Homo sapiens: one gene and its partner. The protein of the gene in region 1 purifies or fractionates together with the protein of each later gene. This does not show direct contact. Each region holds a gene or a part of one and is shown on either strand. Other genes may lie near its edges.

What was found.
Region 2: the proteins of SLC39A4 (region 1) and UXS1 purify together in Homo sapiens (affinity purification with mass spectrometry; 4 studies listed by BioGRID and IntAct, with this or other methods). This does not show direct contact.

Annotation. Positions count from the first base shown.
Region 1 is NC_000008.11:144,413,932-144,418,562, reverse strand, and holds the start of SLC39A4 (zinc transporter ZIP4 isoform 2 precursor), read left to right. Parts: upstream 1-1,718; 5' UTR 1,719-1,773; coding exon 1,774-1,965; exon of another isoform or gene 1,966-2,354; coding exon of another isoform or gene 2,355-2,471; coding exon 2,472-2,753; exon of another isoform or gene 2,754-3,143; coding exon 3,144-3,336; exon of another isoform or gene 3,337-3,452; coding exon 3,453-3,589; exon of another isoform or gene 3,590-3,666; coding exon 3,667-3,838; exon of another isoform or gene 3,839-3,941; intron 3,942-4,128; coding exon 4,129-4,301; intron 4,302-4,467; coding exon 4,468-4,605; exon of another isoform or gene 4,606-4,607; intron 4,608-4,631. UniProt on the Homo sapiens protein: Selective transporter that mediates the uptake of Zn(2+). Plays an essential role for dietary zinc uptake from small intestine. The Zn(2+) uniporter activity is regulated by zinc availability.
Region 2 is NC_000002.12:106,096,802-106,100,521, forward strand, and holds part of UXS1 (UDP-glucuronic acid decarboxylase 1), read right to left. Parts: intron 1,973-3,720; coding exon 1,915-1,972; intron 21-1,914; coding exon 1-20. UniProt on the Homo sapiens protein: Catalyzes the NAD-dependent decarboxylation of UDP-glucuronic acid to UDP-xylose. Necessary for the biosynthesis of the core tetrasaccharide in glycosaminoglycan biosynthesis.

The DNA.
Region 1 (4,631 bases):
GTGGGGTCACATGAATGGAGGGAATGGAGGAGGCCTGTAGCCCAGCACTGAGGCCTACTGGGGAGGCAGCTCAGGAAGGCCACAGAGTCAGGCCCAGGCCAAGACCTTTGCCCAGAAGCTAAAGTAGGCCCTTGAGCCTATTTTAGCATGGGTGGCCTCCAGCCAGCCCATTGGTCCTGGGGTGGTGTGGGAGGGAAAGGGCCAGTTTGGGTCCGCAGCATCTTCAGGCTGTGTGTAGAGCAGCCCCCTCATGGTCCTGGGACCCAGAAATCATCTGCACCCCCAGCAGGCTCTGCACCCCCGGCAGGATCTGCACCCCCGGCAGGCTCCCCTAAGGGCCCCCAGAAGGATACCACTGCGGGTGGGCCCAGCCAGAGGAGCACCATGAGATCCGCTTGGTGGGGTGAGGCCGGCAGGGGAAGCACCCTGACCCCAGGACACTGGGCTCAATGCCCGCCCTGCCCCGTCCCACCCTGTGTATGGCGGGACAGAGTCCTTGGGCCTCAGGCACCCAGCTCCCCACCCCAGCCCCACCCACAATGCTCAGGGTCAGGCTGGCTGGACCGGGCGGGAGGTGGCATCTGGACTCCCCCTTCAGAAGGCAAAGCTGCCCTGAGATCTGCCTTCCCCTTCCCCCAGACTTCCTGCCATCACCACCACGGTAGAGATAAGGCCTCTAGGCTCAAAGGCCAGAGAGGGAGCCCACAGAGAGGGCAGGGCTGGGAGCCACAGCCTCCCTGCCCCCGGGGCTAGAGCTGGGGTCTTGCCCCAATCTTATCCTGACCCAAGCTCGGCCAGGTGGCTGCCAGGGCCCAGCTCCGTCTTCCTGTTTGTCTGTGTTGGAGCTTCCTGGGGCTGTCTCCGGCCTAAGGGAGCATGATGCAGCAGGCACCTTTTCAGTTTCTTTGACTCCATCGCAGTCCCCAACAGGGACCACAGCCCAGGACCCAGGAGGAGGGAGGTCCATGTCCCCACCCCCAACAGGGGCCACCGAGGGTGTCTGGGCAGCCTCTGTTGGGAGGGGCAGAGGCAGGGACCTGGGAGCTCTCAGGCTCTGGGGGCATCTGTGCACCTCTGCCCTGTGTCCCCCAGCTTGGAGGCAGCCCCCAGATGGACAGCCAGAAGGGGACACCCCAGCCCTGCCCCACAGCTTGGGGGGCAGCAGGCAGAGGACAGAAGCCCACCCAGGCTGGCCTGGCGTGGTGAGCCACGCCGGTAATCCCAGCACTTTGGGAGGCCAAGGCGGGCGAATCACCTGAGGTTGGGAGTTCAAGACCAGCCTGACCAACATGGAGAAACACTGTCTCTACTAAAAATACAAAAGTAACCGGGCGTGGTGGCGCTGCCTGTAATCCCAGCTACTCGGGAGGCTGAGGCAGGAGAAGCACTTGAACCCGGGAGGCGGAGGTTGCCGTGAGCCAAGATCACGCCATTGCACTCCAGCCTGGGCAGCAAGAGCAAAACTCCAACTCGAAAAAAAAAAGACCACCGAGGCTGCCTGTCCAGGGGAAGGGGCCCAGCCCTCGACCCCCACAGGCAGTGGCTCCAGGCTGTTGGGGAGGATCTGCCACTGGAATGGTTAACCCAGGCATCTCCAGCAGCCAATCACAGAGCTCTGCAGGAATACCTGGGAGAGGTCCTCATGCAGCCCGGGCGGGTCCTAGCCCAGCCCCAGTCTGGCCCTGGACAACCCCAGCAAAGCCGCCCTCAGCCAGCCCAGAAGCACTGGGCCTTGGCCACAGCAACACCCACTGAGCACGCTGGGAGCTGAGTATGGCGTCCCTGGTCTCGCTGGAGCTGGGGCTGCTTCTGGCTGTGCTGGTGGTGACGGCGACGGCGTCCCCGCCTGCTGGTCTGCTGAGCCTGCTCACCTCTGGCCAGGGCGCTCTGGATCAAGAGGCTCTGGGCGGCCTGTTAAATACGCTGGCGGACCGTGTGCACTGCGCCAACGGGCCGTGTGGAAAGGTAACAGCCCCACCCGACGGGTCCCCCAGCCCTGGCCTCTTCCCGCCAGCTCCGCCCTGCCAGCCGGCAGCAAAGGGCCCTGGGCAAACTCCAGGAGGCGGAGGAGGCTAGTGGCAGTACCTGGGCACCCTGACCCTCCCCACAGGCCAGAGCCCACCCTCCTGCTCATGAGGGCAGACAGGCCTTTCCAGGGACACAGTCCCTCTTCTCCCCAGGACCCCAGGGCCAACTCCCCCTGCCGGCCCTCTGCCATCAAATTGGCAGTGGCTCCAGGGGAGTCCCCTGGGGATGGGGGACCACTGTTGGGGACCCCTCTGCGTGCACCCCTGTAGTTGGGGAAGCAGGACAGGGGCCTGGGGAGACGGAAGGGCGCCAGGGGTTGAGAGAGGATGGTGGACGTTGTTGGACTTGAAAGGGAAACAGGCCCTCGGGGAAGCCCCTGGCCAGGCCTGCCTCTCCCCTCCCTGGTGGGCCCAGCGCCCCTGCTCACTTGTCTCTGCCCACAGTGCCTGTCTGTGGAGGACGCCCTGGGCCTGGGCGAGCCTGAGGGGTCAGGGCTGCCCCCGGGCCCGGTCCTGGAGGCCAGGTACGTCGCCCGCCTCAGTGCCGCCGCCGTCCTGTACCTCAGCAACCCCGAGGGCACCTGTGAGGACGCTCGGGCTGGCCTCTGGGCCTCTCATGCAGACCACCTCCTGGCCCTGCTCGAGAGCCCCAAGGCCCTGACCCCGGGCCTGAGCTGGCTGCTGCAGAGGATGCAGGCCCGGGCTGCCGGCCAGACCCCCAAGATGGTGAGGGAGAGTCCAGGCAGACCAGGGGAGTGGGTGAGGAGGGTCCCACGGCCCATGGGACCCGGCCTGGCTGCAAAGCCTTCGGGGAGCCTGGGGGCCTGGGGAGACGCCCAGGAGTCGGCCTGCGGCTGGGGATTCACAACGTGGGGCTCACTACTGGGCAGTTGGGAGCCTGTAGGAGCCCCGGGAGGGACCTCATGAGGGAGGAACCCAGAGGCCTGAGTGGGAGCCTGAAGCAGCTGGGCCCGGCAGGGAGGGCTGTGGCTCCAGGGAGGGGCGGGGCTGGTGGGGGCAGATCCTGTAGTTGGGGTGGGAGATGCATCCAGGGGCAGCGGGGTGGATGGCAGAAGGTCACACCAAAGGCTGAGGCGGAGGCCCCCTCTTCCCCAGGCCTGCGTAGATATCCCTCAGCTGCTGGAGGAGGCGGTGGGGGCGGGGGCTCCGGGCAGTGCTGGCGGCGTCCTGGCTGCCCTGCTGGACCATGTCAGGAGCGGGTCTTGCTTCCACGCCTTGCCGAGCCCTCAGTACTTCGTGGACTTTGTGTTCCAGCAGCACAGCAGCGAGGTCCCTATGACGCTGGCCGGTGAGGCCTGGGCTGGGCTGTGGAGGGGGGCACCCCCGAGTCCCCAGCCTCCACGTCCCTGGGGGGCAGGGCCGGAGCCCACACAGACTCGCGGTGCCAACTCTTCTCCCTGCCAGAGCTGTCAGCCTTGATGCAGCGCCTGGGGGTGGGCAGGGAGGCCCACAGTGACCACAGTCATCGGCACAGGGGAGCCAGCAGCCGGGACCCTGTGCCCCTCATCAGCTCCAGCAACAGCTCCAGTGTGTGGGACACGGTGAGCTGCGCCCTGGGGTAAGATGGGGCCTCACCGGGGTCTGCTTGGGCCCCTGAGCCTGTCCTGCCACCCCCCAGGTATGCCTGAGTGCCAGGGACGTGATGGCTGCATATGGACTGTCGGAACAGGCTGGGGTGACCCCGGAGGCCTGGGCCCAACTGAGCCCTGCCCTGCTCCAACAGCAGCTGAGTGGAGCCTGCACCTCCCAGTCCAGGCCCCCCGTCCAGGACCAGCTCAGCCAGTCAGAGAGTGAGTGCCCACGCCGACATTGTGCTGGCAGCACAGAGGTGGAGCCCGTGTAGGAAGGAAGGAGTGGCTGCCCAGGATGAGGGATGGAGAGAGTGAGCAGGGGCTGGAAGTAGAAACAACAGACACAGGGGAAGGTGGCGTCGCCAGGAGAGTGGGGCTTTGAGGCAGGAGGGTCAGCCTGAGTGAGGGCCTGGCCCACACTGACGGCCTGCAGCTCTGGTGAGCAGCGCCCGGGAAGCAGGGGCTGAGTCTGGAAGAAAAGCTCTCACAGCCGCCTCACCCGCCCCCAGGGTATCTGTACGGCTCCCTGGCCACGCTGCTCATCTGCCTCTGCGCGGTCTTTGGCCTCCTGCTGCTGACCTGCACTGGCTGCAGGGGGGTCACCCACTACATCCTGCAGACCTTCCTGAGCCTGGCAGTGGGTGCAGTCACTGGGGACGCTGTCCTGCATCTGACGCCCAAGGTCTGCCCCCACAAACCCGCGACCCTGGCCCTCCGTTCCCCACCATGGACTCCCAGGCCGTGCCCTCCCAGGGACCTTACCCACCCCACCTCCTGACCCCTCTCCCTGGGTCTTGGTGGGAGGCGCCCTGGGACCTCCCCCCCAGCCCAGCGCCCCTACTCCCCAGGTGCTGGGGCTGCATACACACAGCGAAGAGGGCCTCAGCCCACAGCCCACCTGGCGCCTCCTGGCTATGCTGGCCGGGCTCTACGCCTTCTTCCTGTTTGAGAACCTCTTCAATCTCCTGCTGCCCAGGGACCCGGAGGTCAGGCTTCTTGGGAAGGTACCCGG
Region 2 (3,720 bases), on another chromosome or scaffold:
CTGAATTTCACTTCCGCTACCTGAGATGTTTAAAGAAAAAAAAGGTAGGAGAGAATCACAAAGCATGGGTAAGCACAGCCTTACCATCCACATCAAAGGCAAACCCCATATGTGGTGTGAATAGGGTGCAGGCGGTGGAAATGCAGTTCTCTGAGAAGCCCCGGAGCTCCCGAGGGACTGTTCTGCGTGGAAGTCCAGGGAGTGCTCCTGCAACTGCTGTGGCCAAGCTGACTGTGTGCAGGCGCCCAGCAAGAGCTCGGTGGGGGGCAGGTTATTCTGTCTCAACAGGCCTGAGTTACCGCCCACTACAAGAGGGTTGCTCCAAGGCAGACCACCCACACCAGGTAACAAGTGCAGACGTGCCCACCGAGCATGACCCCGGTGTGAGACCACAAACGTGGTGTGGGGCCATCCCTGAGGTGGATGCCCCAAGTGGGCCATACCTGGGTGCTCGGAGCCTAGACAGCCCTGAGACCCAAGATGTGCAGCCACCCAGCTGGAGGGACCTCTCGGAGGACGGCAAAGGCTGGCCTGTTCCACATCCTTGCTGGGCCCAGGCCCCACTGGCCAGCAGTACACAGCCCCACCAGTGACTGTGGGCCAGACCTGCAGAAGAAAGCCTGTGGAGGCTTTCCCTGCCTCCGTGTCATGGAGGCCACATTGCAGACTCTGCAGCGAATCACCACCACAGGTGGTTCAGGATGGTCTGTCACAAAGCTATATACAGAAGCACAGCAGGGAAGCTGCACGCCCCTCCCCCCAGCCTTAGGTTTCAAATAGTGTTTCTCAAGCGTCAGCACGCACGGATCACCTGAAGAGCCTGTCAACAGGCAGATCCTGATCTGGGGGCCTGGGCTAGGGCATGAGAGTCTGAATTTCTAACACACATCTGATGATGCTGCTGCTGCGTTGGCCCACGGGCCTCACTCTGTGCAGTGAGGGTGTGAAGGAGTGGATGGCACAGAGCTGTGATCTGAGCCTGCCCCTTCCTCACGCAGGAGGAACACACAGATTCAGGATGGAAAAGCTGGGAAGTGCATCGGAGCAGCTGTGGGAGCCACAGATGATGCAGGCTATGTCTGAGGAAGACCGCTGCTTCTACTGCCACGAGCAACGGGAGGATTCCAGCCATCCGGGTCGATTAGACCAATGCCGATGAATGGCAGCCTGATGCCAGGAAGGGCACACTGGAGGAATTAACCCAGCCAAGCGGGGTCTGAATGGTCACCTCAGGACACACTGTGGCATACTCCTCCTTGGCCTACCTGCCAGTCTAGTCTGGTTGTGACTTCACTCAAATTTCAGGATCAACCCCAGACAACAGACACCCTCCAAGAGTCTGACTCCTCAGAGCTCCAGGAAGTCTGAAGATGAGGCCAAGGGCTCATCCACTCTATGTCTGCAATCCAGGGCTGGTCTGGAAGACCTGACCTTCTCATGGCCTAAGAGTCCACCTTGATGGGGTGCTCCCAATGCTACACTGCCCCCAGTGGGTGGCAGCCAGGATAACCAGAATTGCAAACAGAATTTCAAACCTGCCTGAAGCACGCAGCTGGTGGTTGCTGTCTCTTGCTGTCTGAAATTCTATGCTTGACATGACCAGTTCGGAAATCCAATAGTTGTCACCCATGTAGGATGATCTAATACAATCGTGCCTCAAACACTGGGAGCAAATCTCCTCCTCCCTCCCACTTCATGCAAACCTGCAACGAAAACTGAGGAGAAACCAATCCTGCCCTCCTTTATCTTTCTATTCCTTAAAAATTAGAAAACACTTAAGTATTCCTGATAAAAAGTTCTGCTTTGATCCAATTCAATTAGCTTGTATTAATTACCCACTTTCTAGTCAAGGTGTTATTAACAGATAGGGCAGGCACAGTCGATTTTACTCAGGAAATGACTTATCCTACTTACCAACAAGGTTTTTAATTAACTGAGCAAATTCTAGGATTGTGTGTTCTTCTGGGTTCCCCTAAGAAAGAAACGGTTTCCAGTTATAAGCGTCATGACAACAGCAGCAATCCACCACCCAGACCACAGGCGTGTCTGCAGAGACGTCTACTGGCCGAGTCTGACCTCCCTGCGCTGCTTCAGCAGAGCTCCGTGTGCCAGAGGGTACTCCGCTTCCAAGATGACAGTTACTCACCTGGCAGTGCTAAACTGCACCATCTATACCTTCAGCCTCTAGGCTGCTGTGTACAAGGCTGGGCTTTGGATAGGTCAAGAGTTTCTGATGAAGGCACACACTCACTGAGTATCAGACAATTTCCATATCTAACATAACTTCAATGTCACTTTTATAAAAGCTTGGGTTTACAAAATTAGCTCTCCTAACACTATCTATTCCCGTCTGGGTGAGCTGTGTTAACCATGTCAGTGATGAAGGACTTGTAATCTCACACCCAAAAGCTAAGGCAGAAATGAGTAGGCTCACAGGCGAGTGTCCCCGGCAAGCCAGAGGACAAACTCCATGCATTTCATGAAGAGAGAATACTTGTGTGGGGGCTTTAAGGAAAACCATTTGCTCTTTTTCTCCCTCCCATCACACATCAGAGCACCTGTTACTCTTACTCTGCCACCACTGCCCTCATCATAAGAGACCACCATAAAGTCTGATAATTCTATACCCTAAAGCCTCTTCATGCCCAGGTCCTCGGTTAGCCTGAAGCTAGATGGTAAATGTGGAGGGAGAGACCCTGGGCCTCAATGGAGCACAGAGGGGATGACTAGCGAAGTGGAGTGACGGAAATTTGCAAGAAAGTGATTCTGCCTTTCTCCTGGCAGACACACGATTCCAATTTTAGGAATTGTCCCTGTGCAAAGGCCCTCCCCAAAGAGGGAAGGAGGAACATGGTATCTACAGAGAAGAGCCTGGCTGCCCAGGGAAGTCACTGACAACACCCTTGCTAAAGAACCTGCAACAAAAACGCAGAGCAGGGGCGCCTCGGGCCTCTCCAGTGTACACAGGCAAATGCTGCAAGCAAAATGAGGCTTACAGTGTGAGGCACGTTCTGGTCTGTTTTAAGTGAATTTTTTTCAAAAGTGGCACACTGTACCCATGAATCAGCAACAGTCCCAGAATGGAGTCAGCACTCCAGGGCAATTCTTTCCTACGTGATGAGAATTCCCTTTCACCTCAGGGAAAAATGCATGGTCTGCAATGTATTTGAGATGGCTGGTTACAAAGACATGCATAAGCAAAGGTGACATGGTTTGCAAGAAATAGGTCACATGGCCAACATTTTAGAGTTCCCTGAACTTTAGAGTGTTGTGTAGGAACCAGGAGAGGTAATTTGGGAGAAGCACCTGAAATGACCCCAAGGTAGGGTTAAGGGGGAGGTCTCTGTGAGCTAAGAGGTTCTTGTGTCCACTGCCATCAACAGAAGCAGAACATCTTGAATGCTGGACAGTCCACATTGGAAACCTTGCATTTTAAATGAGATGGAACAAAACTGCTCAGAAAATCACTCAGTGACAGAAAGGGTAAGAGGTCCTACCATGACCTTGGCTGATGCACCAAGGAGGAGGCAGCTTAGGGGGTAGGACCATCTCCTTCAAATCCTTGGAGAGTTACCACACTGTAGAGGCATCACACTAGCCATGAATGGCCCCAGGTGGAGAAGTGAGGTCAGTGGACAGGTGTGCAGAAAGTGAGATTTCTGGTCCAATATGAGGAAGAGCTTTCTGCCGGCCAGAACTGTCCAAAGACAGGGTGAATTT